Linked DNA regions of Homo sapiens: regions 2 and 3 are each linked to region 1. The links come from fine-mapping of genetic effects on gene expression. A gene starts in region 1. Each other region holds a variant in brackets. All regions are shown on one strand. Distances are from middle to middle. Region 1 holds the start of GSTP1 (glutathione S-transferase pi 1). Region 2 has its middle 28 kb from the start of GSTP1. Region 3 holds the start of NDUFV1 (NADH:ubiquinone oxidoreductase core subunit V1).

The links. PIP is the estimated chance that this variant, and not a neighbour inherited with it, causes the effect.
Region 2: its variant is the best candidate, but not a certain one, in a credible set for the expression of GSTP1 in fetal neocortex (Walker 2019, PIP 0.88).
Region 3: its variant is the best candidate, but not a certain one, in a credible set for the expression of GSTP1 in whole blood (TOPMed, PIP 0.66).

The regions. Positions count from the first base shown.
Region 1 is chr11:67,578,454-67,588,425 of GRCh38, forward strand. GSTP1 (glutathione S-transferase pi 1) reads left to right here and starts at 5,359. Exons shown (of 7, transcript NM_000852.4): 1 at 5,359-5,391; 2 at 5,681-5,716; 3 at 6,011-6,117; 4 at 6,232-6,319; 5 at 6,685-6,788; 6 at 7,651-7,758; 7 at 7,936-8,200. The coding sequence starts at 5,391. The coding sequence ends at 8,124. RefSeq lists enhancers at 920-1,019, 8,238-8,307, 9,671-9,960 and silencers at 4,959-5,578, 5,129-5,271, 5,589-5,738, 9,602-9,802.
Region 2 is chr11:67,550,855-67,560,826 of GRCh38, forward strand. No RefSeq gene overlaps it. Among named protein-coding and RNA genes, the nearest start is that of GSTP1, 28 kb to the right of the region's middle. The variant ATTT/A (reference allele first, on the strand shown) is at 4,809.
Region 3 is chr11:67,605,200-67,615,171 of GRCh38, forward strand. NDUFV1 (NADH:ubiquinone oxidoreductase core subunit V1) reads left to right here and starts at 1,737. Exons shown (of 10, transcript NM_007103.4): 1 at 1,737-1,877; 2 at 3,197-3,279; 3 at 3,353-3,523; 4 at 4,253-4,436; 5 at 5,182-5,371; 6 at 5,796-6,008; 7 at 6,204-6,370; 8 at 6,698-6,779; 9 at 6,921-7,066; 10 at 7,173-7,355. The coding sequence starts at 1,806. The coding sequence ends at 7,259. It overlaps NDUFV1-DT (NDUFV1 divergent transcript), which reads right to left and starts at 1,507. Exons shown (of 3, transcript NR_130935.1): 1 at 1,420-1,507; 2 at 694-812. It also overlaps the pseudogene DOC2GP. RefSeq lists enhancers at 1,246-1,305, 1,686-1,815, 6,534-7,733, 7,703-8,218, 8,502-8,551 and 5 more. The variant A/G (reference allele first, on the strand shown) is at 3,829.

The DNA.
Region 1 (9,972 bases):
CCATCCCTGCGCCTGGGCTCAGTGAGGCCACTGGGGCACCTTCACCTTGGATAAGAGTTCAGAACTTTGAAGATTAAGCTGGACCAGATCTGCTCATCCTCACAGTACATTTCAGGAGCATCTCAATGGCTCCCACCCTGGCCTGGAACCCTCCTGTGCTGCCGAGATATCAGGGAGGCGCTGGGTACTGCAAGGGGAAGATGGCATTGCTATGGAGCCACTCTTGGTGAAGGTCGAATGGGTGACATTGGAAGTCTAGCTTTTCCTGAGGCTGGGGTCTGGACCTTGGTCTAGATCAGGGGTCAGCAAATTTTTCTTGAAAATGTAGACAGAAAATATCTTAAGCTGGCCGGGCACGGTGGCTCACACCTGTAATCCCAGCACTTTGGGAGGCTGAGGCAGGCGGATCACAAGGTCAGGAGATCGAGACCATCCTGGCTAACACAGTGAAACCCCGTCTCTACTAAAAATACAAAAAATTAGCCGGGTGTGGTGGCGGGCGCCTGTAGTCCCAGCTACTCTGGAGGCTGAGGAAGGAGAATGGCGTGAACCCGGGAGGTGGAGCTTGCAGTGAGCCAAGATCGTGCCACTGCACTCCAGCCTGGGCGACAGAGCCAGACTCCATCTCAAAAAAAAAAAAAGAAAAAAGAAAATATCTTAAGCTTTGAGGACCACATAGTCTCTGTTGCAATCACTCATTTGGGCCACTGTAGCACAAAAACAAACATAGATAACACACACATGAGTGAGCATGGCTGGGGCCCAATAAAACTTTATTTACACAAGCAGGTGATGAACCACGGTCCATAGTGTCCCAATCCTTGATTTAGATGGTGAACTATCATGAGCTTTCGTTGCCCTCTCCGGTAGAAATATGGGAGAAACCACAGAGAGAAACAGAGATTTCAGGAAAACAGTAAAATTAAACAAATAAAGTGAGACGTCGCCCCTCCTGGAGGCTGCAGGCTGTGTTGAACCTGTGTGTGTCTGGGTGTACAGGGATGTGAGTAGATGCGCGTGGAGATGTGTGTGTGGGTGGAGACTGAGCGTGGCTGGAGGTGGCTGTGGTAGGATGCCAGAAGGAAGGAGTTTGCATTCAGTTCCTTTATTAGTACTCTCTGGAGTTGTTGAGGGGATGTCACTGCTGAACACTGACCCTGGTGCAGGCTAAACCGAAGTTAGCCTCTGCTACCCTCTGCTGGGTGAGGCACTGGGGAGAACAGTGGGACTGAATGGGGCGGGCTTTCTCCCTCCCACACTTCCCCTGGAAACACCCAGCACCAGCACATTAGAACATGGGGAGCCACCTTCCCCAGCGCTGCTTCCCAAGGTTCGGAAGGGGAAACTCTGACCTCAAGCTCTGTTTGAAGAGCGATAGCAAAGGGGAGAGGTTGGCTGTGGTTTGGTGGTGCTTATCTCCTTCCTTTGCTTTGAAACCACAGGCTGGCATACTACCCGAGAGAATGACCAGTGCCACCAAGGGAAGGGCACAAGCTCACTGGTTCCAGGGGAGACATCTCAGGGGACAGGAACATCCCCTGACGCTGAATGAGTGCAGCACACAGACGGAGAATACACACAAGAGAAATCATGAGGACATGAGAGAAGGCACTGGCAATAGGAAGTTACAAAAAGCAACAAAAAGAAAGAGTAGATATAAAAACAATAATCGAAGAAAGCCAACAACAGATGGGATGAATCATACGAGGTATGCGACTCATGGATGAAGAGGTGAGTGATGAGATCAGCTGGGGAACTCTCTCCCAGGAAAGACAAACCAGAAGAAACACAAATGACATCGAAGTGGCCAGGCGCAGTGGCTCACGCCTGTAATCCCAGCACTTTGGGAGCCCGAGGCAGGTGGATCACTTGAGGTCAGGAGTTTGAGACCAGCCTGGCCAACATGATGAAACCCTGTCTCTACTAAAAATACAAAAATTAGCCAGGTGTGGTGGCAGGCACCTGTGATCCCAGCTACTCAGGAGGCTGAGGCAGGAGAATCACTTGAACCAGGAAGCAGAGATTGCAGTGAGCTGAGATGGTGCCAGTGCACTCCAGCCTGGGCAGTAGAGTGACAGCCTGTCTAAAAAAAAAAAAAGGCAGTAAAGTGATAGGAGGATAGATTAGAAGGGCCATTTTCCAGATAGTGCAAGGAAGAAAGAAGAAGAAGAAGAGGAGGAGGAGGAGGAAGAGGAAGAAGACGGAGAAGAGGGCATCTCAGAAGAAACAATGGAGATACATTTCTCAAAACTGAAGAAAGATGACCAACCTCAGACCGAAGGGCCAAGAGGCCAAACCAGAGAGACAGCTTGGCAAGCCAGGAAGAGCACCAAAGCTAGACAATTAGAGTGAAATTAAAGAAAACCCAAGGTGACAAAAATTTAAAAAGCTTCCTTGTGACCTCAGTCCATTGGTGAAAATTTAAAAAAAAAAAAAAAAAAAAAAGGACAGCCTGGGCAACATGGTGAAACCCCATCTCTACAAAAAATACAAAAATTAGCTGGGTGTGGTGGCACATGCCTGTAGTCCCAGCTATTCGAGAGGCTAAGTAAGGCAGGAGGATCACTTGGGGCCAAGAGTTCCAGACCAGCTGCGGCAACATACATGTTGTGGGAAGTCAGGCACCCCGAACGGAGGGACTGGCTGAAGCCATGGCAGAAGAACATAAATTGTGAAGATTTCATGGACATTTATCACTTCCCCAATCAATACTCTTGTGATTTCCTATGCCTGTCTTTAATCTCTTAATCCTGTCATCTTCGTAAACTGAGGATGTATGTCGCCTTAGGACCCTGTGATGACTGCGTTAACTGCACAAATTGTTTGTAGAGGACAATTGTTGTGTGTTTGAGCAATGTGAAATCTGGGCATCTTAAGAACAGGATAACAGCAATTTTCAGGGAACAAGGGAGATAACCTTAAAGTCTGGCTGCCTGTGGGCTGGGCAGGACAGAGCCATACTTCTCTTATTACCGCAAACAGGTAAGAGAAATATCGCTGAATTCTTTCCCCAGTAAGGAATATTAATAATTAACAGCCCTGAGAAAAGAATGCATTCCCAGGGCCGGGCCACTGAAATGGCCTCCCTGAGAGTGCCTGCCTTTATTCAGAAGTAGAAAGGGATGAAACACGCCCTAGTCTCCTGCAGCACCCCCAGACTTGATAGGATTAGGAAATTCCAGCCTGGCAAATTCTAGTCAGACCGGTTCTCTGCTCTTGAACCCTGACAGTGCGTGCACAGTGGGACCTGGAAGTTCATTAGTGATTCTAGTTTCGCCGTGACCTTCTGCCCTGTGATCTTTTGTCGCCCTTGAAGTATGTGATCTCTGTGACCCACACCCTGTTCGTGCACTCCCTCCTCTTTGAAAATTGCTAATAAAAACTCGCTGGTTTTACGGCTCAGGGGGCATCACGGAACCTGCGGACATGTGATGTCTCCCCTGGACACCCGGCTTTAAAATGTCTCTCTTTTGTACTCTTTCCCTTTATTTCTCAGGCCAGCCGACACTTAGGGAAAATAGGAAAGGACCCACGTGAAATATTGGGGGCTGAATTTCCCCCGATAATAAGTCTCTTAAAAAAGACTTTTAAATGAAATTTCTTTGTTTTTTAACTTTTATTTCTGTTTTGGGGGTACATGTGAAGGTTTGTTACATAAGTAAACTCGTGTCTTCGGTGTTTGTTGTACAGAATATTTCATCACCCAGGTATTATGCCGAGTACCCAATAGTTCTCTTTTCTGCTCCTCTCCTTCCTCCCATCCTGCACCCTGGAGTCAACCACAGTGTCTGTTGTTTCCTTGTTTGTGTTATAAGTTCTCATCATTTAGCTCCCACTTACAAGTGAGAACATCCAGTATTTGGATTTCTGTTCCTGCATTAGTTTGCTAAGGATAATAGCCTCTAGCTCCATCCATGTTCCCACAAAAGACATGATCTAGTTCTTTTTAATGGCTGCATTAAATGAAGTTTTAAAGATACAACATAAACACCAACCTCTTCCCCACCACAAAAATCCCTTGCTGAATTTGATTACACTTAAATTAACGAGTTTTGTTTCATGAAAGACTCCTTGGACAAACTTGACAGTTGATGGAATAGGAGAAGCTGTCTGTCATGTCTAAAGCCAACAAGAGATCAATATCTAGAATAAATGGAGATCTGCAAATCAACAGAAAGTAGGCAGCAAAGCCAAAGAAAATAGCCTAAGGCACAGCCACTAAAAGGAACGTGATCATGTCCTTTGCAGGGACATGGGTGGAGCTGGAAGCCGTTAGCCTCAGCAAACTCACACAGGAACAGAAAACCAGCGAGACCGCATGGTCTCACTTATAAGTGGGAGCTGAACAATGAGAACACATGGTCACATGGCGGCGATCAACACACACTGGTGCCTGTTGAGCGGGGTGCTGGGGAGGGAGAGTACCAGGAAGAATAGCTAAGGGATACTGGGCTTAATACCTGGGTGATGGGATGATCTGTACAGCAAACCATCATGGCGCACACACCTATGTAACAAACCTGCACATCCTCTACATGTACCCCAGAACTTCAAATAAAAGTTGGACGGCCAGGCGTGGTGGCTCACGCCTGTAATCCCAGCACTTTGGGAAGCCGAGGCGTGCAGATCACCTAAGGTCAGGAGTTCGAGACCAGCCCGGCCAACATGGTGAAACCCCGTCTCTACTAAAAATACAAAAATCAGCCAGATGTGGCACGCACCTATAATTCCACCTACTCGGGAGGCTGAAGCAGAATTGCTTGAACCCGAGAGGCGGAGGTTGCAGTGAGCCGCCGAGATCGCGCCACTGCACTCCAGCCTGGGCCACAGCGTGAGACTACGTCATAAAATAAAATAAAATAACACAAAATAAAATAAAATAAAATAAAATAAAATAAAATAAAATAAAATAAAATAAAATAAAAAAATAAAATAAAATAAAATAAAATAAAGCAATTTCCTTTCCTCTAAGCGGCCTCCACCCCTCTCCCCTGCCCTGTGAAGCGGGTGTGCAAGCTCCGGGATCGCAGCGGTCTTAGGGAATTTCCCCCCGCGATGTCCCGGCGCGCCAGTTCGCTGCGCACACTTCGCTGCGGTCCTCTTCCTGCTGTCTGTTTACTCCCTAGGCCCCGCTGGGGACCTGGGAAAGAGGGAAAGGCTTCCCCGGCCAGCTGCGCGGCGACTCCGGGGACTCCAGGGCGCCCCTCTGCGGCCGACGCCCGGGGTGCAGCGGCCGCCGGGGCTGGGGCCGGCGGGAGTCCGCGGGACCCTCCAGAAGAGCGGCCGGCGCCGTGACTCAGCACTGGGGCGGAGCGGGGCGGGACCACCCTTATAAGGCTCGGAGGCCGCGAGGCCTTCGCTGGAGTTTCGCCGCCGCAGTCTTCGCCACCAGTGAGTACGCGCGGCCCGCGTCCCCGGGGATGGGGCTCAGAGCTCCCAGCATGGGGCCAACCCGCAGCATCAGGCCCGGGCTCCCGGCAGGGCTCCTCGCCCACCTCGAGACCCGGGACGGGGGCCTAGGGGACCCAGGACGTCCCCAGTGCCGTTAGCGGCTTTCAGGGGGCCCGGAGCGCCTCGGGGAGGGATGGGACCCCGGGGGCGGGGAGGGGGGGCAGACTGCGCTCACCGCGCCTTGGCATCCTCCCCCGGGCTCCAGCAAACTTTTCTTTGTTCGCTGCAGTGCCGCCCTACACCGTGGTCTATTTCCCAGTTCGAGGTAGGAGCATGTGTCTGGCAGGGAAGGGAGGCAGGGGCTGGGGCTGCAGCCCACAGCCCCTCGCCCACCCGGAGAGATCCGAACCCCCTTATCCCTCCGTCGTGTGGCTTTTACCCCGGGCCTCCTTCCTGTTCCCCGCCTCTCCCGCCATGCCTGCTCCCCGCCCCAGTGTTGTGTGAAATCTTCGGAGGAACCTGTTTCCCTGTTCCCTCCCTGCACTCCTGACCCCTCCCCGGGTTGCTGCGAGGCGGAGTCGGCCCGGTCCCCACATCTCGTACTTCTCCCTCCCCGCAGGCCGCTGCGCGGCCCTGCGCATGCTGCTGGCAGATCAGGGCCAGAGCTGGAAGGAGGAGGTGGTGACCGTGGAGACGTGGCAGGAGGGCTCACTCAAAGCCTCCTGCGTAAGTGACCATGCCCGGGCAAGGGGAGGGGGTGCTGGGCCTTAGGGGGCTGTGACTAGGATCGGGGGACGCCCAAGCTCAGTGCCCCTCCCTGAGCCATGCCTCCCCCAACAGCTATACGGGCAGCTCCCCAAGTTCCAGGACGGAGACCTCACCCTGTACCAGTCCAATACCATCCTGCGTCACCTGGGCCGCACCCTTGGTGAGTCTTGAACCTCCAAGTCCAGGGCAGGCATGGGCAAGCCTCTGCCCCCGGAGCCCTTTTGTTTAAATCAGCTGCCCCGCAGCCCTCTGGAGTGGAGGAAACTGAGACCCACTGAGGTTACGTAGTTTGCCCAAGGTCAAGCCTGGGTGCCTGCAATCCTTGCCCTGTGCCAGGCTGCCTCCCAGGTGTCAGGTGAGCTCTGAGCACCTGCTGTGTGGCAGTCTCTCATCCTTCCACGCACATCCTCTTCCCCTCCTCCCAGGCTGGGGCTCACAGACAGCCCCCTGGTTGGCCCATCCCCAGTGACTGTGTGTTGATCAGGCGCCCAGTCACGCGGCCTGCTCCCCTCCACCCAACCCCAGGGCTCTATGGGAAGGACCAGCAGGAGGCAGCCCTGGTGGACATGGTGAATGACGGCGTGGAGGACCTCCGCTGCAAATACATCTCCCTCATCTACACCAACTATGTGAGCATCTGCACCAGGGTTGGGCACTGGGGGCTGAACAAAGAAAGGGGCTTCTTGTGCCCTCACCCCCCTTACCCCTCAGGTGGCTTGGGCTGACCCCTTCTTGGGTCAGGGTGCAGGGGCTGGGTCAGCTCTGGGCCAGGGGCCCAGGGGCCTGGGACAAGACACAACCTGCACCCTTATTGCCTGGGACATCAACCAGCCAAGTAACGGGTCATGGGGGCGAGTGCAAGGACAGAGACCTCCAGCAACTGGTGGTTTCTGATCTCCTGGGGTGGCGAGGGCTTCCTGGAGTAGCCAGAGGTGGAGGAGGATTTGTCGCCAGTTTCTGGATGGAGGTGCTGGCACTTTTAGCTGAGGAAAATATGCAGACACAGAGCACATTTGGGGACCTGGGACCAGTTCAGCAGAGGCAGCGTGTGTGCGCGTGCGTGTGCATGTGTGTGCGTGTGTGTGTGTACGCTTGCATTTGTGTCGGGTGGGTAAGGAGATAGAGATGGGCGGGCAGTAGGCCCAGGTCCCGAAGGCCTTGAACCCACTGGTTTGGAGTCTCCTAAGGGCAATGGGGGCCATTGAGAAGTCTGAACAGGGCTGTGTCTGAATGTGAGGTCTAGAAGGATCCTCCAGAGAAGCCAGCTCTAAAGCTTTTGCAATCATCTGGTGAGAGAACCCAGCAAGGATGGACAGGCAGAATGGAATAGAGATGAGTTGGCAGCTGAAGTGGACAGGATTTGGTACTAGCCTGGTTGTGGGGAGCAAGCAGAGGAGAATCTGGGACTCTGGTGTCTGGCCTGGGGCAGACGGGGGTGTCTCAGGGGCTGGGAGGGATGAGAGTAGGATGATACATGGTGGTGTCTGGCAGGAGGCGGGCAAGGATGACTATGTGAAGGCACTGCCCGGGCAACTGAAGCCTTTTGAGACCCTGCTGTCCCAGAACCAGGGAGGCAAGACCTTCATTGTGGGAGACCAGGTGAGCATCTGGCCCCATGCTGTTCCTTCCTCGCCACCCTCTGCTTCCAGATGGACACAGGTGTGAGCCATTTGTTTAGCAAAGCAGAGCAGACCTAGGGGATGGGCTTAGGCCCTCTGCCCCCAATTCCTCCAGCCTGCTCCCGCTGGCTGAGTCCCTGGCCCCCCTGCCCTGCAGATCTCCTTCGCTGACTACAACCTGCTGGACTTGCTGCTGATCCATGAGGTCCTAGCCCCTGGCTGCCTGGATGCGTTCCCCCTGCTCTCAGCATATGTGGGGCGCCTCAGTGCCCGGCCCAAGCTCAAGGCCTTCCTGGCCTCCCCTGAGTACGTGAACCTCCCCATCAATGGCAACGGGAAACAGTGAGGGTTGGGGGGACTCTGAGCGGGAGGCAGAGTTTGCCTTCCTTTCTCCAGGACCAATAAAATTTCTAAGAGAGCTACTATGAGCACTGTGTTTCCTGGGACGGGGCTTAGGGGTTCTCAGCCTCGAGGTCGGTGGGAGGGCAGAGCAGAGGACTAGAAAACAGCTCCTCCAGCACAGTCAGTGGCTTCCTGGAGCCCTCAGCCTGGCTGTGTTTACTGAACCTCACAAACTAGAAGAGGAAGAAAAAAAAAGAGAGAGAGAAACAAAGAGAAATAACCATGGTCACTGTCCTGGAGCACCACACAGTGTATATAGAAGGAGAAAAGTCTCATAGAAACATGCTTTCTAGGCACAGCACGTGCCTGTCAGATGGACAGACTCCAGGATGGAGGGAAATGAGGGATTCTGGGAAGGAGGGATGTGAGGAGTTCCCTGTCCTGGGGGATTAGCTGAGTAGCTCTGAGCAGCCCAGGTTGGTGGGAGGGTCATTCTGCTTGGATGGGGGCTTTCCTGGCTTCCTGCTGACTTGTGAGTTTTGGTGCATCCTAGGCAAGCAATGACACTACTGTATTAGGATTCTCCAGAGAAGCTAAGCCAGTAAGATGCTGTAGGGCAGGCAAAATTTTATCTCTGTCCTTTTAGGGTTTTTTGGCTGGGCCTGAGAACTAAAGACATGAGCAAGAGAAAAGCATTCAAATTTATCTAGGCTGGGCATAGTGGCTCATGCCTGTAATCCCAGCACTTTGGGAGGCTGAGGCAGGTGAATCACTTGAGGTCAGGAGTTCAAGACCAGCCTGACCAACATGGTGAAACCCCGTCTCTACTAAAAATACAAAAATTAGCCAGGTGTGGTGGCGGTTACCTGTAGTCCCTGCTACTTGGGAGGCTGAGGCATGAGAATCGCTCTCTCTCTCCTGCCACCTTGTAAAGATGTGCCTGCTTCCCCTTCACCTTCCACCCTGATTGTAAGTTTCCTGAGGCTTCCCAGTCATGCTTCCTGTTAAGCCTGCAAAACTGTGAGTCAATTAAACCTCTTTTCTTCATAAATTACTCAGTCTCTGATAGGTCTTTGTAGCAGTGTGAGAATGGACTAATACACTGTTTTTGTTTTGTTTTGTTTTGTTTTGTTTTTGAGATGGAGTCTCACTCTGGTGCCTAGGCTGGAGTATAGTGGTGTAATCTCTGCTCACTGTAACCTCTGCCTCTCAGACTCAAGCAATTCTCCTGCCTCAGCCTCCTGAGTAGCTGGGATTACAGGTGCCCACCACCGCGCCTGGCTAATTTTTGTATTTTTAGTAGAGATGGGCTTTCATCATGTTGGCCAGGCTGGTTTCGGACTTTTAACCTCACGTGATCCACTCGCCTTGGGCTCCCAAAGTGCTGGGATTACAGGCGTGAGCCACCGCACCCAGCCTAATACGCTATATTAATCAGAAACTGCCAACTAACCTCTAACTTGGGACTTTTCACTCTAACCAGTCAAAATTGTTTTCTTTGTCTGGCTTCTGCAAAATGATTAAGTTTCACTTCCCCTCTAATAGAAGCACTAGCTGCTTTGGTCTTGTGCTATCTTAATTTATGTGTCACTGAATGCTCAAATAAACTCTTTAGAATGTAAATGGGCTTAAGTTTATCTTCTAGCAGATCTGATGTCAGAGGTAGGATCCTTCAGAAGGACATCAGAAGGATCTGAAGGATTTCTCCCCATCCTGGGCCCAGTGATGGTCTCCAGGAGCAATGAGCAAACAGGTGTAGGCATTTCACTGAGCCCCCTGCACGCTGCTTCCTGCAGCATATTTGAAGGTCATCACTGGTAAGTCCCACTCAGATACTGTATTAGTCCCTTCT
Region 2 (9,972 bases), 28 kb before region 1:
CTCTCTCTCTCTCTCTTGCCTGCCACCATGTAAGACCTGCCTGCTTCCCCTTCTGTTGTGATTGTAAGTTTCCTGAGGCCTCCTCAGCCATGTGGAACTGTGAATCAATTAAACCCCTTTCCTTTATAAATTACCCAGTCTCAGGTGGTATTTTTATAGCAGTGTGAAAATGGACTATTATAGTAAATTGGTACTGCAGAGAGTGGGGTATTGCTATAAAGAAACTTGAAAATGTGGAAGCGACTTTGGAATTGGGTAATGGGCAGAGGTTGGAACAGTTTGGAGGGCTCAGAAGAGTACAGGAAGATATGGAAAAGTTTGTAGCTTCCTAGAGAATTGTTGAATGCTTTTGAGCAAAATGCTGATAAGGATGTGTACAATGAAGTCCAGGCTGAGGTGGTCTCAGATGGAGTTGAAGAGCTTATTGGGAACTGGAGTAAAGGTCACTCATGCTATGCTTTTTAGCCAAGAGACTGGGTGACATTTTGCCCCTGCCCTAGAGATCTGTGGAACTTTGAACTGGAGAGAGATGATTTAGGGTAACTGGCAAAAGAAATTTCTAAGCAGCAAAGCATTCAAGACATGACCCAGATTATTCTGAAAGCATTCAGTTTTATGCATTCACAAAGAGATGATTTGAAATTGGAACTTACATTTAAAAGAGAAGCAGAGCATAAAAGTTTAGAAAATTTGCAAGCCTGATGATGCAACAGAAAAAAAAAATTTCTGGGGAGAAATTCAAGCCCACTGCAGAAATTTGCATAAGTAATGAGGGGCTGAATGTTAATCACTATTTAACTCCCCAGCCATGTAGAACTGTGAGTCATTTCCATCAATGAGGAAAATGTCTCCAGGGCATGTCAGAGATCTTGTTGGCAACATCTCCCACCACAGGCCCAGAGGCCTAGGAGAAAAAAATGGTTTCATGGGCCCCAGTCATGTCTAAAAGGGGCCAAGGTAAGCTTGGGGCATTAGTTCAGAAGGTGCAAGCCTCAAGCCTTGGCAGCTTCCTTGTGGTGTTGGGCTTGCAGGTGCACAGAAGTCAAGAACTGAGGTTTGGGAACCTCTGCCTAGATTTCAGAAGATGTATGGAAGTGCTTGGATGTCCAGGCAAAAGTCTGCTGCAGGGGCAAAGCCCTCATGGAGAACCTCTGCTAGGGCAATGTGGAAGGGATATGTGGGGTTGGAGCCTCCACACAGAGTCCCCACTGGGGCACTGCCTGGTGGAGATGTAAGAAGAGGGCCACTGTCCTCCAGACCCCAGAATGGTAGGTCCCCTGACAGCTTGCACCATGTGCCTGGGAAAGACACAGGCACTGAATGCCAGCCTGTGAAAAATCCTGCCCCTTGCATCAGCATGCCCTGGATGTGGGACATATAGCCAAAGGAGATCATTTTAGAGCTTTAAGATTTAATGACTGCCCCAATGGATTTCAGACTTGCATGGGGCCTGTAGCACCTTTTTTTTTGGGCAGTTTTTCCCATTTAGAATGGGAATATTTACCTAATGCTTGTACCCTCATTGTATCTAGGAAATAACTAGCTTGCTTTTGATTTTACAGGCTCATAGGCAGAAGGGACTTGCCTTGTCTCAGATGAGATTTTAGACCGTGGACTTTTGAGTCAATGCTGGAATGAGTTAAGACTTTGGCATGATTGTGTTTTGAAATGTGAAAGGGACATGAGATTTGGGATGGGTCAGGGGTGGAATGATTTGGTTAGGCTTTGTGTCCCCACCCAAATCTGATCTTGAATTGTAATCCCCAGGTGTTGAGGGTGAGACCTGGTGGGAGGTGATTGGATCGTGAATCAGCATGTTGCCTCCATGCTGTTCTCATGATAGTTGGGGAGTTCTCATGAGATCTGATGGTTTTATAAAAGTCAGTTTCCCTGGGCTTTTTGCTTGCTCTCTCTTGCATGTTGCCATGTAAGATGTGCCTGCTTCCCCTTCTGCTGTGATTGTAAGTTTCCTGAGGCCTCCCTAGTCATGCAGAACAGTCAGTCAATTAAACCTTTTTGCTTTATAAATTACTCAGCCTTGGGTAGTATCTTCATAGCAGTGTGAAAACGGACGAATATACCTTTCAACAGAAGGTAATGGAGCAATTAGAATTTCATAGGCAAAAAAAGAAATGTTAATCTAAACCTCACAACTTATAGAAAATTAACTGAAATGGATTATGGACTTAATTACAAAATGAAAAATTATATAACTTTAAGGGAAAAAATGTGAGAAAATGTTCAGGATCTAGAGCTAGGCAAAGAATTCTTAGACTTAATACTAAAAGCATGATCCATAAGAGGAAAAATGGATAAATTGCACCTCATAAAAATAAAAATGTTTGGCTGGGCACTATGGCTCACACCTCTAATCCCAGCACTTTGGTAGGCTAAGTCAGTAGGATCACTTGAATCCAGGGGTTCAAGACTAGCCTGGGCAACACAGTGGGACTCCATCTCTACAAACCATAAAAAAAATTAACCAGGTATGGTGGTACATGCCTGTAGTCCCAGCTACTCAGGAGGTTAAGGTGGGAGGATCACTTGAGCCTGGGAGGTCAAGGCTGCAGTGGACCATGATTGCGCCACTGCACTCCAGCTTGGGCAACAGAGGCAGCTTGGGCAGCAGAGGCGGTGGCTCACATCTGTAGTCCCAGCACTTTGGGAGGCTGAGGCAGGTGGATCATGAGCTCAGGAGATTGAGACCATCCTGGCTAACACAGTGAAACCCTGTCTCTACTAAAAATACAAAAAAATTAGCCAGGCGTGGTAGCAGGCGTCTGTAGTCCCAGCTACTTGGGAGGCTGAGGAAAGAGAATGGTGTGAACCTGGGAGGTGGAGGTTGCAGTGAGCCGAGATTGCGCTACTGCACTCCAGCCTGGGTGACAGAGCGAGACTCCATCTCAAAAAAAAAAAAAAAAGGAAATGTTTGCTTTGCAGAACACTCTGTTAAGAGGTTAAAAAGTAAAGTTAGAAGTGGGAGAGGCCAGGCACAGTGGCTCATGCCTGTAATCCCAGCACTACGGGAGGCCGAGGTGGGCAGATCATGAGGTCAGGAGTTTGGGACCAGCCTGGGCAACATGGTGAAACCCCATCTCTACTAAAAATATAAAAATTAGCTGGGCATGGTAGTGCATGCCTGTAATCCCAGCTACCTGGGAGGTTGAGGCAGGAGAATCACTTGAACCTGGGAGGCAGATGTTGCAGTGAGCTGAGATTGCGCCACTGCACCCCAGCCTGGGTGACAGAGTGAGACTCCACCTCAAAAAAAAAAAAAGAAAGAAAATAAATAGCCCTCATCAAAGACTCAAGTTATCTTTTTATAGTTGGTTTCTAGCTCAGTTGTATTGCGTACAGAAAACATGCTCTAAGATTTCAATCTGTTGAAGAGTGTGGGTGTTTCTGGCTGTATAGGATCTGATAGGTACTCCTTGTGTGCTTGAAAACAAAGCGTATTTTCAGTCATTCAAATATTCAATATTATTCTGATCGTTTTCTCAGTCTCTTCTATCAATTACTGAAGCACTATTTCAAAATATCCCACTCTAGGCTGGAAGGAAATAGAAATGAATTAAGATTGAGATTGGCAAATACACACACACACACACACATACACACACACACACACACACACACACACACACACAGCTGTTTTGTGTATTTCTCATCATAATTCCATCATACTTTACTGTATATAGTTTGTGGCCATGTTATTAAGGGCATACAAATTTAGAATTTTTGCAACGTCTTAATAAATACTGAATCTTTTCACATTAGCAAATTCCCATCTCATATGTAAAGGTTTTGTTTTCTTTGTTTTGAGATGGTCTCGCTGTGTTGCCCAGGCTGGAGTGCCGTGGCTATTCACAGGCTGTATCGTGGTACATTACAGCCTTGAACTCCTAGCCCCAAGCCATCTTCCAGTTTCAGCCTTCCAAGTAGTAAAGATTTTGTTTTAAAATTCATTATTTATTTATTTATTTATTTTTCTTCCCTTAAGGTGCTATTGGTAGGCCAAGCATAGTGGCTTATGCCTGTAATCCCAGAACTTTGGAAGGCTGAGGTGGGTGAATCACTTGAGGTCAGGAGTTTGAGGCCAGCCTGGCCAACATGGTGAAACCCCTCTCTACTAAAACTACAAAATTTAGCTGGGTGTAGTGCCGGGCGCCTGTAGTCCCAGCTACTTGGGAGGCTAAGGCAGGAGAATGGCTTGAACCCGGGAGGCAGAAGTTGCAGTGAGCCGAGATCGCACCACTGCACTGCAGCCTGAGGACAGAGCAAGACTCTGTCTCAAAAAAAAAAAAAAAGAAAAAAAGAAAAAAGTGCTATTGACCTGACGTCAGTATAGATATATGACAGCTTTTCTTCAGTTTGTTCCTATGTGGCCTATCTTTTTTAATCCTTTTATTTTCAACCTTCCTATAGTCTTATGCTATAAATGTGCTCCTTGTAAATAGAATATAATTTGATTTTCTTTTGTTTTTCATTCTGACTTCTTCTTTTTTTTTTTTTTTTTTGAGGCAGGGTCTTGCTCTGTCCTCCAGTCTGGAGTGCAGTGGTGTGATCATGGCTCACTGCAGCCTCAACCTCCTGGACACAAGCAATCCTCTTGGCTCAGCCTCCTAAGTAGCTGGGACTACAGGCATGCACCGCCACATCTGGCTAATTTTTTAATTTTTAATTTTGTAGAGACGGAGTCTCCTTATGTTGCCCAGGCCAGTCTCGAACTCCTGGGCTCAAGGAATCCTCCTACCTTGGCCTCCCAAAGTGCTGGGATTACAGGCGTGAGCTACCTTGCCCAGCCCCCA[ATTT/A]TTTTTTTTTTTTTTTTTTTTTGAGACGGAGTCTTGCTTTGTCTACTAGGCTGGAGTGCAGTGGCACAATCTCGGCTCACCACAACCTCCATCTCCCAGGTTCAAGCGATTCTCCTGCCTTAGCCTCCCGATCAGCTGGGACTACAGGCGTGTGCCGCCATGCCTGGCTACTTTTGTATTTTTAGTAGAGATGGAGTTTCACCATGCTGGCCAGGGTGGTCTTGAGCTCCTGACCTTAGGTGATCCACCCGCCTCGACCTCCCAAAGGGCTGGGATTACAGGCATGAGCCACCACGCCCGGCCAAATTTTTTTAAAAATACAAAATAAATTGTTCTGTTGTGAACAATGCTGCAATAAACATGGGAGCTCGGTTTCTGAGCGTGCTTGTAAAGGTCTTCTGGTGGACGCATACGCTCTTTCCTTTGAGCTTTGTATTAGTTTCCTTCAGAGAAACGGAACCAATGGGATGTGTGTGGAGAGAAAGAGAGAGGGAGAGGCAGAGACAGAGAGGGAGAGGCAGAGACAGAGAGAGGGAGAGGCAGAGACAGAGAAAGGCTCCAAGGAATTGGCTTATGTGCTTGGTGGAGGCTGGGTATGTTCAAAAAAGTCCAATTCTGCAGGATAGGTTGGCAGGCTGGAGACCCCAGGAAGAGGTGATGCCGTGGCTCGAGGCTGAAGGCCGTCTCTGGCAGAATTCCTTCCTCTTCAGGGAACCTCAGTTGTCTCTCTTAAGGCCTTCAGCTGATTAGATGAGGCCCACCCCCATTATGGAGGGTCATCTGCTTCACTCAAAATCTACTGATCTAATTGTCAATCTCATCTAAAAAATGCCTTCACAGAAACATCTAGAATAATGTTTGACCAGATACTTGGGTGTTGGGGCCTGACCAATTTAACCCATAAAATCACCTATCACTAGTATATACCTTGGAAGTTTTACAGCTGATACAGTTTTTCAGTGTGGCTGAACAGTTTAACAATCCCTCCCATCTGCAGTGCATGGAAGTTCCAGTTGCTCTCCCTCCTGTTGACAGTTGGAATTGTTGTTGTTTTTTGTTTTGTTTTGTTTTGTTTTGTTTTGAGACGGAGCCTCATTCTGTTGCCCAGGCTGGAGTGCAGTGGTGCGATCTCAGCTCACTGCAACCTCCACCTCCTGGGTTCAAGCAATTCTCTGCCTCAGCCTCCTGAGTAGCTGGGACTACAGGTGCCCACCACCACGCCCGGCTAATTTTTGTATTTTTAGTAGAGACGGGGTTTCATCATCTTGGCCAGGGTGGTCTTGAACACCTGACCTCGTGATCCACCCGTCTCAGCCTCCCAAAGTGCTGGGATTACAGGCGTGAGCCACCACGCCTGGCCCAACAGTTGGAATTGTTAGTGCCCTGCGTGCAGTGATATTTCACTGTGGCTTTAATTTACATTTCTGGCCGGGCATGGTGGCTCATGCCTGTAATCCCAGCACTTTGGAAGGCTGAGGCAGGCAGATCACCTGAGGTCAGGAGTTGGAGACCAGCCTGGCCAACATGGTGAAACCGCGTCCTTACTAAAAATACACAAATTAGCCGAGCATAGTGGCACATGTCTGTAATCCCAGCTACCCGGGAGGCTGAGGCAGGAGAATCACTTGAATCTGGGAGGTGGAGGTTGCAGTAAGCAGAGATCACACCACTGCACTCTGGCCTGGGCGACAGAGTGAAACTCCATCTTGAAAAAAAAAATTGCATTTCCTAATGACACTGAACATGTTTTTACCTTTTTATATGCTTAAGGGGTGTATAATAATGGCACACAAATCGTCTTAAGGCTATTTGTTTTAAATATTAGGGACTAGACTATGAAATATGGACACAGATAGGCTAGTAATTTATTGTCCCTTTGAAGTCTTTTTTTTTTTTTTTTTTTTTTTTGGTAGAGATGGGGTCTTGCCATGTTGCCCAAGCTGGTCTCGAACTCCTGGGCTCAAGTGATCCACCTGCCTTGGCCTCCCAAAGTGCTGGGATTACAGGCGTGAACCACCACAACTGGCCCCTTTCAAAGTCTTTTTTTTTTTTTTTTTTGAGAGGGGTCTCACTCTGTCACCCAGGCTGGAGAGCAGTGGTGCGATCTCGGCTCACTGCAACCTCTGCCTCCTGGGTTCAAGTGATTCTCCTGCCTCAGCCTCCCGAGTAGCTGAGACTACAGGTGTGTGCCACCACACCCGGCTCTTTTTTGTGTGTTTTTAGTAGAGACAGCGTTTCACCATGTTGGCCAGGCTGGTCTCAAACTCCTGACCGCAAATGATCTGCCCGCCTTGGCCTCCCAAAATGCTGGGATTATAGGCATGAGCCACTGCGCCCAGCCCAAAGTCTTTACATATTTGCCCAACATGTATTTAGTTTGGCTGTTTCTTTATTTTAAAAAGCCGCTTTTTATTTAAAGAAAAACAAAAGATTGTTTTCAGAAATAAATTCACCTTCCGGGGCTAAAAAAATCCTAACCATTTCCTACTTCTCTTTGGTTCTTGTTCTCACTTCAGGTTGTATATTAATCAGATACAAGTCCCACTGAGGTTACAAAGTCCCCCAACCGCAGCAGCTGAAACAAGCTAGAAGTATGTTTTCACTCTGCAACAAGTCCGGTGTCCTCTGCACGAAGCAATGGGCACTCCGTGGTGTTAGGGACCCAGGCTCCCCCTGCTCTCTCTGCCATGCCAAGGATGCCATCCCTGTCACGTCCATGTTCCAGCCCCGCGGGATCAGGGGTTCTCTGAACAACACCTTTTGAAGAGGCATCTTCTAGGTTTGCAATGTAGATGATAAAATAAGTCACTTGTTGGCAACACGCAGCATACCCCATGCAGCACCGGGTTTCTGACTTGCAACTGGCGTGACTTCTAGTGAATGTGCCGCCCAGAAACACTCGACGGAGACTACACTGCTATCACTAAGTTGTTTTTTCTCCTTCTTGAGTACTTCAGTGGGGTGGGGCCAATTTATATTTAACCAGTTATTTCAGGAATCAAGGAGGGCGGGGAGGCACACTGACTGCTGTATTACTGGTTCATTCTGGGAAGCCTGGGCCCAGCTCCAGCTTGCTGAGGCCACGCTACGGGGTCCACAGCGTCGACTGTCCCTGACTCTAACCAGCGTCTCCCAGAGCCTGCAAATGTGCCACACACAGCAGCAGGGGCGGGGCTCACTCCTCATTCTCACTCTTCGACTTGTATTGGGCTGATTTTGATTGAAAGCAGCAGAAACCCAATCAAAGGCGAATTTGCTGACTCAGTTAACTGGAAGATAACGGATGCTTCTGCTTTACGCACGTTGGATCCAGGAGCTCCATCAAATTCTTCATCATTTCTCACTCTTCCTCCCCATGAAACATTGTTTTTCTCCCTCTGTCTCTCTTTTTTTTTTTTTTTTTGAGACAGAGTCTTGCTCTGTCGTCCAGGCTGGAGTGCAGTGGTGCGATCTCGGCTCACTGAAACCTCCGCCTCCCGGGTTCGAGCAATTCTCGTGCCTCAGCCTCCCGAGTGGCTGGGACTACAGGTGCCCGGCTAATTTTTGAATTTTTAGTGGAGACGGGGTTTCACCGCGTTGGCCAGGCTGGTGTCGAACTTCTGACCTCAAGTGGTCTGTCCGCCTCAGCCTCCCAAAATGTTGGGATTACAGGTATGAGCCACTGCACCCAGCCAGCATTCTTTTTCTCTACACTGCTTACTTCTCTGTGGCTTCATTCTCAGGCAGCCTGTACCTGCAGGGTGGCAAATATGGCCAAGTCACTTTAAGGCTTTCTTTGATGAGTTCTGGGGTTGCCTTTCATTGGCGTGGCTCACTGGGTCCTGCCCCTCCCTGAATAATCACTTTGGCTAGGAGAATGCAGTTCCTATCCCCTTGGCAGAAGTGGTCACTTTCAGTTCAATCACATGGATTTGGTTCCTCCAAGAAAGAGAGGTTCTGTTACCAAAGGAAGAGGCAAAGGATGCTTAGCTGACGAAGACCTCAGGTGCCCTCTGTGCCTTCTTTGCTGTGCCCAGATGATGCCTTTGGCCAGCTTTTTCCTGTACTGCTCATTATAAAAACAATATGTAATGAAGTGGAGAAAACTTATTTCTCAAAAATTCCTGGACAGGCACTGTGGCTCACGCCTATAATTTCAGTGCCTTGGGAAGCTGAGGTGGGAGGCCAGGAGTTTGAGACGAGCCTGGGCAACACACTGAGATCCCATCTCCATTTAAAATATGTATATTAAAAAAACAAATCCTAAGGGAAGACTGGAGATAGGCTGGTGGGTGATTTGGACAGAGAGGGGCCATCTCTATGCCCAGGGCCTGGATGTCCCATGAACAGCTTTTCCTGGGGTCAGGCAGGCAGGGGTGGAGGGCACCAGCAGGAGGAGATGGAGGACTGGGCTATGCCAGGTGCCGCCTCCTGTCCATGCCCCACCCTGATTCTCCATCACGGGCCGATTCCCTGCAATGCCCAGGAGGACTGGAGTGAGAAAGTGGGCTCTCCATGATGGAGACTGAGGAGGGGAGAAAGCTACAGGCTTGGTTTGCTCTGTTGCAGAGGAGGGAAGTGGCCTTGAGCTGCCTAGGCCTGGGAATTGGGGTTCAGACTGAGCTCTAAGTAAATCTGCAATGGGCAGGAGGCCTAAGGGATCATATGTTTTCTGAAAATCAAAGATGCAGGCCGGGCGCGGTGGCTGACGCCTGTAATTCCAGCACTTTGGGAGGCTGAGGTGGGCGGATCACGAGGTCAGGAGATCGAGACCATCCTGGCTAACATGGTGAAACCCCGTCTCTACTAAAAATACAAAACATTAGCCAGCCATGGTGATGGGCGCCTGTAGTCCCCGCTACTCAGGAGGCTGAGGCAGGAGAATGGTGTGAACCTGGGAGGCAGAGCTTGCAGTGAGCCGAGATCATGCCACTGCACTCCAGCCTGGGCGACAGAGTAAGACTCTGTCTCAAAAAAAAAAAAAAAAAAGAAAAAAGAGAAAAAGAAAATCAAAGATAAACTGGGGTGTTTTCCAATACCAGCAACCACTTCTCTGACTCTCCAGATACCAGCTTAGTGTTTGAGAAAAGAAAAATCCCTCAGAGCAGTCTGACCTACGTGAGGTGCACGAATGAATCAGGCCGGGAGAGACATGGATGTGGACTTCAGTTGCATACCCCCT
Region 3 (9,972 bases), 27 kb after region 1:
TGAACAGAGGATCCTTCCCTCACTCTCCGTTTTCCATCCCCCCTCATGCCCAGCATCTCCTGTCCCCAGCATCCCCAACCTGCATCTCCCTCAGCCTGTATTCCTTTGACCCAGTTAGAGACAGATGAGGAAGGAATCCACCCGCTGGGCTGGCTCTGACCTGCCCCCCTTCTTCTGCCCCAAAGGGAGGGATCCGAGGACTCAGGTCTGAGCCCGGATTAGCTGTGTAATCCCCAGCTTTGCCTAGGCAACCTCTTTCCCTGACCAAGAGAGGGGGCCTGCGGCTGGCAGCCAGGACTCCTGGGCTCTGGGCCTGATACTACTCTATCTGTCTGGGAAACCTCAGACAGGGAAGAGATTTCTTGGTGCCTCTCTTGGGAATGTCACTGACGTCCACAGTGACTGTCACATGCGTGTCAGTTGTTCTGTGGGTTTGCTGTGTGCGGGGCACTGTGGAAAGGAAGAAAGGCCTAGATTCCAGTCCAGCTCCACCACTCAGCAGCTTCATGCCCACAGACAAAGGACAAAATCCCCCTGAGCCTCAGTTTTTTCGTGGACAAAATGGAGTGAACACCTTGTGGGGCTGCTGTGGGGTATGTGAGAAAATAGCTGCAAAGGAGTTTTGTAAACAGCACGTTTTAGAGAGATCAGGAAGGATGATTACAGCACAAAAGAACAGAGATGGTTCCTCACCATGAGGACTGGAAAAGAGCTGGGGAGAGCAGGCCAAAAAGGTCACTCTTATCACGAGGACCACAGCAGAGGGTTCCAGGAAACTGAAAAAGACGAGTTCATCAGGCTTCCAAGACCTCCTGGGAAGGCAAAGGACAGAGGGACCTCCTCAGGTCAGGGGAAAACCGAGGGAGGGGGACAGCCACACAAACGCCCTAAAGTCTAATGACGGCAGAAAGGGGTCTTGGGGGACGGGGGTGGGGTTCACAGCAGTGGCCTGGGCGTGATGACCCTGGCGAAGGACGGGGTCGCAGAGCCCTTAAATCCTGGACCAGTGGCTGATTCCAAAAGCAGCAGGGACCATGCCAGGATTTTGGGCAGAAGCAGAAAGTGCTGGACTCTCCTGACAAGAGCTGAGAGAACTCAGCGGCGCCAGCAAGAGTTTGTGCCGTGCACTGACCATCTGCATCCTCTCTGCCTCACCCCAGCCTAGGATTCCGTGACAGGCCCTCTGGGAAGAACTCCGCGAACAACCCCCTGCCTTGGAGTCTGCAATCCTTCCTCGAGCACACGGACGCCCGGGGTGGGGAAGCCCACAGTCTGGCAGGGCTCGCACTGGGCAGAATAATTGCAACGTAGTCATGAGGATCGGGCTATGACCTGCCTGACTTTTCACTCCTCCCATGATACACCGATGCATACCGCAGGTGCACACTAAACGCCGAATCTATAGAAAGTGGAACACACCAGGACCCAGCAGAAGGCGACATGCGAGGTTTGTTTACTTGTGGCATCAAAGGCTGGGAGCCGGCGAGCTAAGGAGGGAGCGAAAGAGCGAGCGGTGGGGACAGCCACCGCTAAATGCCAGCCCGGTGGAGGGAGGAAGGCGGACCCCAGGCCGGTGGGACCACATCTCCCAGAAGCCCCGGCGCCAAGGCACTGGCCTCTCAGTCCTCCCCCGAGGAGGCGGGGCCGCTGGCGAAGTTGAAGGGGCGCAGCGATACCGGTGCGCGGCGCTGGCGTCGGGCGCGTGACGTCTTTCCTGCGCGCCACCTAGCGTCTCTATCGCGCCAGTTCCTCAGCCTCAGTGCTATGAAGGTGACAGCGTGAGGTGACCCATCTGGCCCGCCGCGATGCTGGCAACACGGCGGCTGCTCGGCTGGTCGCTTCCCGCGCGGGTATCTGTGCGTTTCAGCGGCGACACGGTGAGGCCCAGCCTGGCTGGGGCCACGGGTGTTTGGGGCCGGGTGTCGCGGCCGCGCCCGTGCACGAGCAGTCCCTGGGGTCTGTAGTGGCCTCTGGAGAGCCCTTCTCCCCAGGCCAGGCGGGAAGGCCCCCGCTCCGGCCTGGTTGAAGTAGGGGAACGGGTCCCAACGCGGGGCCGACTCCCTTGACCCTCTGACTTGCTGGCTTCCCTTGTTTTACAGTCCTCGGCCTGGCGGAAGTTTTGCAGGTTGTGAAGACCCCTAGTCTTTCATTCTCTCCTTGTCACAGCCTTGTAGGGCGTGAAGGGGTCATTGCCCCATTTAGGGATGCGCACCTCCTGATTTCCCGTCCACTGCTCTGCGCCCTGAAGTGGCTGAAAAGTGCTCTTAAAAGGATGGGAATCCCGTCGCCCTCAGCTGGTGCGCTCTCCACTGGGTCGTGGGGCTCCTCATTTCATCCTAAGTGAGCCCCTCCATCACCTGTGTGTTAAGGAGGCATTTCTTTCCCATCAGTAAACACATTTCGCCTCTTCGGCCGAGGTAGGAATATAAAAGGCCCCTGGCCTACCCAAGTTTTGGTCCAGCAGGGGAGCCAGGCCGGGAAAGGGCCAAGCTGCCACACTCGGCTTGTGGGGCTGTGTGGTGCCGTGATGCAGCTGTGGGTTTGGCCACCGACAGACCTGGGCTCAAATTGGACCTGCTGCTTTTGACTGTGAGACCTTCCATAAGCTCCTTTTGCTCCAAGCCTCAGTTTTCTCCTCTGTGAAACAGAGAAAATCGTTCCTATCAGAGTTCTTATGAGGATGAAATGGGATTTTGGATGTAAAATGCTTCCATCCAGTACCTGCTAAACAAAATGCTTACTAATGGCCGGGCGCGGTGGCTCACGCCTGTAATCCCAGCACTTTGGGAGGCTGAGGCGGGCGGATCGCTTGAGGTCAGGAGTTCGAGACCAGCCTGGCCAATATGGTGAAACCCTGTCTCTACTAAAAGTGCAAAAATTACCCGGGCGTGGTGGTGAGTGCCTGTAATCCCAGCTATCCAGAGGCTGAGGCACAAGAATTATTTGAACCTGGGAGGTGGAGTTTGCAGTGAGCTGAGATTACGCCACTGCACTCCAGCCTAGGCAAAAGAGCAAGAGTCTGTCTCAAAAAAAAAAAAATGCTTACTAAGTGGCAGTGGTATCTATGATGCTATAGATGCTTCCCTAGCCCTAGCCCAGCCCCTCCTAAATAGGGAGACCCAAGATTCTGTAGCTTCTGGCCCAATCCCTCATGGCCCCAGAGCACTCTGGGCCTCCTGACCCTTTGTCTCCCTAGACAGCACCCAAGAAAACCTCATTTGGCTCGCTGAAGGATGAAGACCGGATTTTCACCAACCTGTACGGCCGCCATGACTGGAGGTGAGACAGTGCCCTTAGTGTGTTGGGTCCCGGAGCAAGGTGTCCCCTTCATTGCCTTCCCTATTCTGTCCAGGCTGAAAGGTTCCCTGAGTCGAGGTGACTGGTACAAGACAAAGGAGATCCTGCTGAAGGGGCCCGACTGGATCCTGGGCGAGATCAAGACATCGGGTTTGAGGGGCCGTGGAGGCGCTGGCTTCCCCACTGGCCTCAAGTGGAGCTTCATGAATAAGCCCTCAGATGGCAGGTGTGTGTGTGGGGGCGGGGCAGATGTGGCTGTGGGAGAGACCTTGGGGGTGGCTGGGGTTTCCCTGGGCCTTTGGGCTCTTTCCTTAGAAACTTAGCATGAATGAGGTGGGCACATGTTCCCAGGCCTTAAATGGATGGGACTTACTCTGTGGACTTCCACAGGGGAGACTTATGTAGCAGAATCAACACATGATTTTGACTCAGGCAGACTTAGTTCAAATCCTAGCTCTGCCTCCTAATCATAGAGGTTTGGGCAATTTCCCAGCCTTTGTGAACCTTAGCTTCCTTTTTGTAAATAGGTAC[A/G]GTGATATCATGCAAGGATTAAAGAGATAATGTTCATACAGCTTTTGGCCTGTATGCTGGTTGGCACATAAAGCAAATGATAAATGTCACCTGCTTTACCTCCTTTTGATGGTAGAGCTTGAGGAATGCTCTTTGTCACCAAGAGTAGAATCTGGCTCTCAGGGGCAGACACAAGGAGAGATGTTTGGATGAGCTGAATGAAGACCTTTCTTGTGGTCATAGCCACCCAAAGACAGAATAGGCAGTGAGCTCCCTGTCATTGGTGGTGAGCAAGCAGAGCCCCTGGGACATGTTGGGAGGGCAGTAAAGGATTGGCTGTCAGAGGAGACATCTTTGAGGCCTCCCTGGGTGGAGTGGGGTGGCATGGAGTTGAAGACCCAGTCCTGATGGCCCTGTAGCCTGTCTGACCTGTGGGCCCCTGCAGGCCCAAGTATCTGGTGGTGAACGCAGACGAGGGGGAGCCGGGCACCTGCAAGGACCGGGAGATCTTACGCCATGATCCTCACAAGCTGCTGGAAGGCTGCCTGGTGGGGGGCCGGGCCATGGGCGCCCGCGCTGCCTATATCTACATCCGAGGGGAATTCTACAATGAGGCCTCCAATCTGCAGGTGGGTAGGGAGAGATGTAGACAGATGAGAAGGTGTTCAGTGTGCACTCACACACCCCTCACCCAGCACAGTTGTTCTGAGGTGTTAGTACCTGGTCTGTCAGTGGTTGAACTGGGGGAGTGGTGGCCAGTCCTGCATGCATCCCAAATGGGACTTGGCTCCCAAAGCCTCCTTCCAGGGCTCCTAATGCTGCTGGTGTAAATTTTTTTTTTTTGCTTCAAAAATATAGTATTTTTTATAAAACAAGTAGCAAGAAGAAAAAACCTAAGTGGAACTATGTGTTTAGCAAGAGAGCGGAATAATTATGAATATAAACAATTCCTATTTGGAGAAAATACATTATGTTCATTGCTTGGAACTATGAATAATACTTATATCTGTAGGAAATATAGAAAAATAAAATAGGTTAAGGCAATAAGGATATAGGCAATTACATTTTTATTTTAATTTTATAAGGACTTTTATTTTTCCTTTACAGACTAGGGTAGTTAGGAGACCTGATAGTAGCTACTTCGTTTTTATTTTCCTGGCAGCAAAGCAGCTTACTTATGTGTTCCTTCTTGCTTATCTGTTCCAGATCATAGTCAAGTTTTCCAATTCGTTTTACTAAGCTAGCAAAATTTTTTATACCAGGAGCATTAGGAGCTTCACCGTGGGAGGCCTTCAAGGGCTTCATGACTCCTGAAGTTATAGGCTGACTCCTGGGCTGGGGGTGGGCTGGGAAACTCACACCTTTGTCCTGCAGGTGGCCATCCGAGAGGCCTATGAGGCAGGTCTGATTGGCAAGAATGCTTGTGGCTCTGGCTATGATTTTGACGTGTTTGTGGTGCGCGGGGCTGGGGCCTACATCTGTGGAGAGGAGACAGCGCTCATCGAGTCCATTGAGGGCAAGCAGGGCAAGCCCCGCCTGAAGCCCCCCTTCCCCGCAGACGTGGGTAAGGCCTGGCGTAACCCTGGGTCAGACTGTGTCCTGTGACACCCGGGATCTGGCTAGGCTCCCTTTGGATTGTTCTTAGGGATTTCTGAGTGGCTTCCCGGCTGGGGCCAGATAGAGAGTAGGCTGGCAACAACACACAGGCTCCCCCAGGGCCGCCTGCTGTCCCTCCTCCTGCCTCGGTCCCCTCCGCACCAGTGCTGCTCTGTGGCTCCACCTTCACAGTGCCTGTTCTGAGGCTAAGGGCATGGGGTGAACAAGGCAATGGGCATCTCTGGAGTTTGGGGTCCAGCAGGGATAAGAATGATAAGGGGATATTAGAGCAGGGGCTCTGCCATGGGTGCAGGACCCTGGGACACACCTCCCTGCCAGGAAACTTGCCCCACCCCCTAGCAGCCACCAGTTCTCTTCCCATTTCCCTGAAGGAGTGTTTGGCTGCCCCACAACTGTGGCCAACGTGGAGACAGTGGCAGTGTCCCCCACAATCTGCCGCCGTGGAGGTACCTGGTTTGCTGGCTTTGGCAGAGAACGCAACTCAGGCACCAAACTATTCAACATCTCTGGCCATGTCAACCACCCTTGCACTGTGGAGGAGGAGATGTCTGTGCCCTTGAAAGAACTGATTGAGAAGCATGCTGGTAAGGCCTGGGGCCAGCCAGGTGGTGGGGGGGTGCGCAGTGGGGGCAGGTGTCCACAAAGAGAGCCTGGGCGGGAGGGCTCAGGAGACGGGGCTGGGTCTAGGGGCTGACTAAGGGCCTGGGCTCAGGACTAGGCAGGTGTGCCGGCCCCAGCCCTGACCATGCATCCCTTTGGGGACCGACTTGGGGCCCCAGGGGGTGTCACGGGCGGCTGGGACAACCTCCTTGCTGTGATCCCTGGCGGCTCGTCTACCCCACTGATCCCCAAGTCTGTGTGTGAGACGGTGCTGATGGACTTCGATGCGCTGGTGCAGGCACAGACAGGCCTGGGCACAGCTGCGGTGATCGTCATGGACCGCTCGGTAAGGGTTCACACACCAGCCCTGGTCCCTGCCCTCCTGGTTGCTGTCTCCCTCCCTGGGCCTCCCAGAAAACCCTCTTGCCAGCACTCAGGTCTCAGTTCCTGCAGCCTGAGATAAAGCAAGGTGGAAGAGGAGGGAGGAAGGCTGCTCTGAGGAGAATACCCCGGAGTCTGGGCAGCACAGGGGGCCCAGGGAGGCTGGAGGAGGCCAGAACGCTGGGTGGGCTGGGAAGAGCTTCTGGAACTGGGGGAGGGGCTGCTGCTAGGGGGCTGAGGCCCAGGCTTCTGTCTGGCCGTGGGTGCCTGCTAATTGCCCCTCGTCACCCAGACGGACATCGTGAAAGCCATCGCCCGCCTCATTGAGTTCTATAAGCACGAGAGCTGTGGCCAGTGTACCCCATGCCGTGAGGGTGAGCATCGGGCAGGTTGGGGGCTTGCTTGCTGTGGCTTCATTTAACCTCCTCCCCACCACGTGGCCTGCAGCCCTCAAGCGCCGCCCCACATCCTGGCTGGGGAGATCATCAGGCCCTCTCTTGTGGCTGTGGCTGCAGGTGTGGACTGGATGAACAAGGTGATGGCACGTTTCGTGAGGGGGGATGCCCGGCCGGCCGAGATCGACTCCCTGTGGGAGATCAGCAAGCAGATAGAAGGCCATACGATTTGTGCTCTGGGTGACGGGGCCGCCTGGCCTGTGCAGGTATTCACCACCCTTCTGCGTAGCACGGAGGGTGGGTGGCATCAAGGGCCCAGGGTGTTGGGGGATTTTTGGACTCTGTTTCACATGGTCCCCCCACCGACCCCAGGGTCTGATCCGCCACTTTCGGCCGGAGCTCGAGGAGCGGATGCAGCGGTTTGCCCAGCAGCATCAGGCCCGGCAGGCTGCCTCTTAGCCCACCACCCTGGCCTGCTGTCCTGCGTCTATCCATGTGGAATGCTGGACAATAAAGCGAGTGCTGCCCACCCTCCAGCTGCCGCTGCTGTGACTGTGCTCTTTACCCTTTACCCAGCACACGATCCTCAAGGGTGGGAGGGGAGAACAGGGTCCAGTCTGGCCCATGGCCAGAGAAAGGACAGGGTCTCATCTGGCTTGAAGGAGATGTTTATTTCGGCTCCATGATTTGGGGTGGGGTGAATGTGAAAGCGGGGAGAGAGGAAACACCTCTCTGACTTGGGGCTGGGCATGAGGGTAAGGCAGCCCCAGCCGCCATCATTTTTGTGGGGACGTTTCAGGCAGCTGTAGTGGAGGGGCGGCAGGCAGGGCCCATGGGCTAGTCGCTGAGCTGGACAGGCTTGCTGTCCAGCGGGTGCCACAGCTTCAGGCGGTGGTCACTGTGGCCCAGGCACTCAAGCCAGTGCCGCAGGCGCTCCCCACTGGCATGGCTGCCCAGCTGCACCCCGCCTGCCATGGGGGATGGGTCAGGAACCGCCAGGAGCCTACTGGGCCCCCACCCCAGCTCCTCATGTTCCCACTCACCAATGAAGTCATCAGCCGTGCCTAGGTCATAGTCCCACACAGACACCAGCAGCGTCTTCTGGGCCAGCTCCTCCCGTGGGCCTGAGTAAAAGAATTCCTGCAGGGAGAAGGGCAGAGAGGCGGGAAGGAGGCAGCCTCGGCTCTCCCACAGCTTAAGAAGCAGGCCACGGTAGGGTAGTGGCTCAGCATGTCAAGGCCAGGGTTGGCTGGGACCTGCCTGGCCCTGGCTCACCTCATTGAACTCGGGGTTCAGGGTCTTCCTGTGAACACTGGTTTTGAATTTAGATTTCTTCCCTGCATTTGGATGCAGGAAACTGATCGGGGAAGATTGGCGGGTTAGGTGTGGCCCTGGAGAGGTGAGGAGTCACCGCCTTATCCTCACCTCCCGCCTGCCTACCCCAGTTCACTCACAGGCGCACGAAGGGGTCCGAGTAACCATTGGCATCCATGGGGGCCAGGTGGGCGCAGCGCAGCACACCTACCAGCAAGCCACCCTGCTGAGAGCTGTAGCACAGTGACAGTAGGACGTGCCCACATTCCTCCCAGGCCACCTCTGTCTCCACCTCCTCCTGCAGGTGTAGGCTGAGGTCAGCCCCAATCCAGTCCAAAGCCCACCCCCTTTAGCCTCCGTGCTCTGGGCAGGAAAGCTCAACCTGGCCCCAAAGAAATCGGGGGCAACGACTTCATTTCCAATACAGCCACTTGCCCAGTGCCATGGAAGTGGCCCTATGGGTCAGCTGTACCCTCCAGGGCCTGACCAAAGGCGAGGCTTGCTGACCACATGACCAGTCAGATACGTCTGTCATGGAGGGGAAGCGAACTGGCTGACATGCCAGTAGCTCCCTAAGTGGCCTCCCATCCAGTGTGTGTAGCCACCCCTGTAGGCAAGCGGCTCTGAGAGGATGTTCACTTCCCAAGGAGAAGCAGATCTCTTCAAAACCCCACCCTCTTCACCCCCTATTTCCCTGGGGACCAGATGCTGAGTGTCGTTTGTCACACTCTGGGCCCTGGTGCTTCTGAACAGGCTCAGGGAGGAAGCCCGGGGAGGATGCACTGCTCTCACCCGCAGGGTAGGTTTCCATTTGCGGAAAGCCCCACCACCTTGCTCACAGGCGGTTCTCAGGAATGCGGAAGTGCTCTGTGGGCACCCACCATGCTCCGGGCGCTGTTGTGCTTGGGATCTGGGGCGGAGGGTACACGGGGCTGGCGCTGGGTGAAGTGGCCTGTCCATGCCACCTTGGTGGGCTTCAGCCACTTGGGCTTAGCTAATCGACAGCTGCAGCAACTTGTGGCTCCACCAGGGGGCGGGGCACCCGGCACTTTGGGGAGGAGCTGGTAGAGGGCCCCGCTCTCAGCCTCCCAGCTGCCTCCCCCACCGACCACAGGGGTTCTAACTAGGTCTTTGGTCTCTAGTGGCGTCAAACCCCTGCCAGTCACCCTCACTGCCTCCGGACAAGGGCCTGTCTAGGACAGCCTGCCCCAGGAGTGGCCCCCACACTCCCCTCAGGCCAGACCCCAGCCAGGGAGCCCCACCCATCTGTCCTCTCTTCCACCTCGCCCAGCCTCCCATCTCGGGCCGTGGACAAATGCCGCCAGTTTCAGCCTCTGCCTCAAGGCAGGTCTCTGCCCAGCTGCGCCCCCAGGGACTCTGCTTGTCCCAGTGCCCCACAGCTCCTCTGGGCTGCCCTGGCAAGGGAGTCACCCTCACTTTGTCACCTGGCTGTCCCCTGTGACAATGAGGGCTCACAGGGCCTATGAGAGCTGGCCTCAGGTTCCTCCAAGTCCCCTACGCCCCTGCCACCAGGCCTGCCCCCTCATCTCTGCTCAGCCCAGTTGTCCTACCCACCTCATAGAGGGACATGCCACAGGCTGTGTCCAGGCTCTTGGGCCTCTTGGCCTGAAAGGGCAGAGAGCCCGGTCATCCTGGCCAGATGCTGCCCAGATCCCCCTCCCTGTTCCTCCCCTCCAGCTCCCCCCATCACAGGTTCCTGGCCTCTGCAGTCCCACCTGTGCTCCAGCCCCACTCACCAGCCTCCGCTTCTCCAGACAGATGTCAAAGCTCCTGGCTCGGTTTGGCACCAGCTTCCTCAGGGGCACCCGCAGCTCCCCCAGGGAAGGTGCCTGCCACT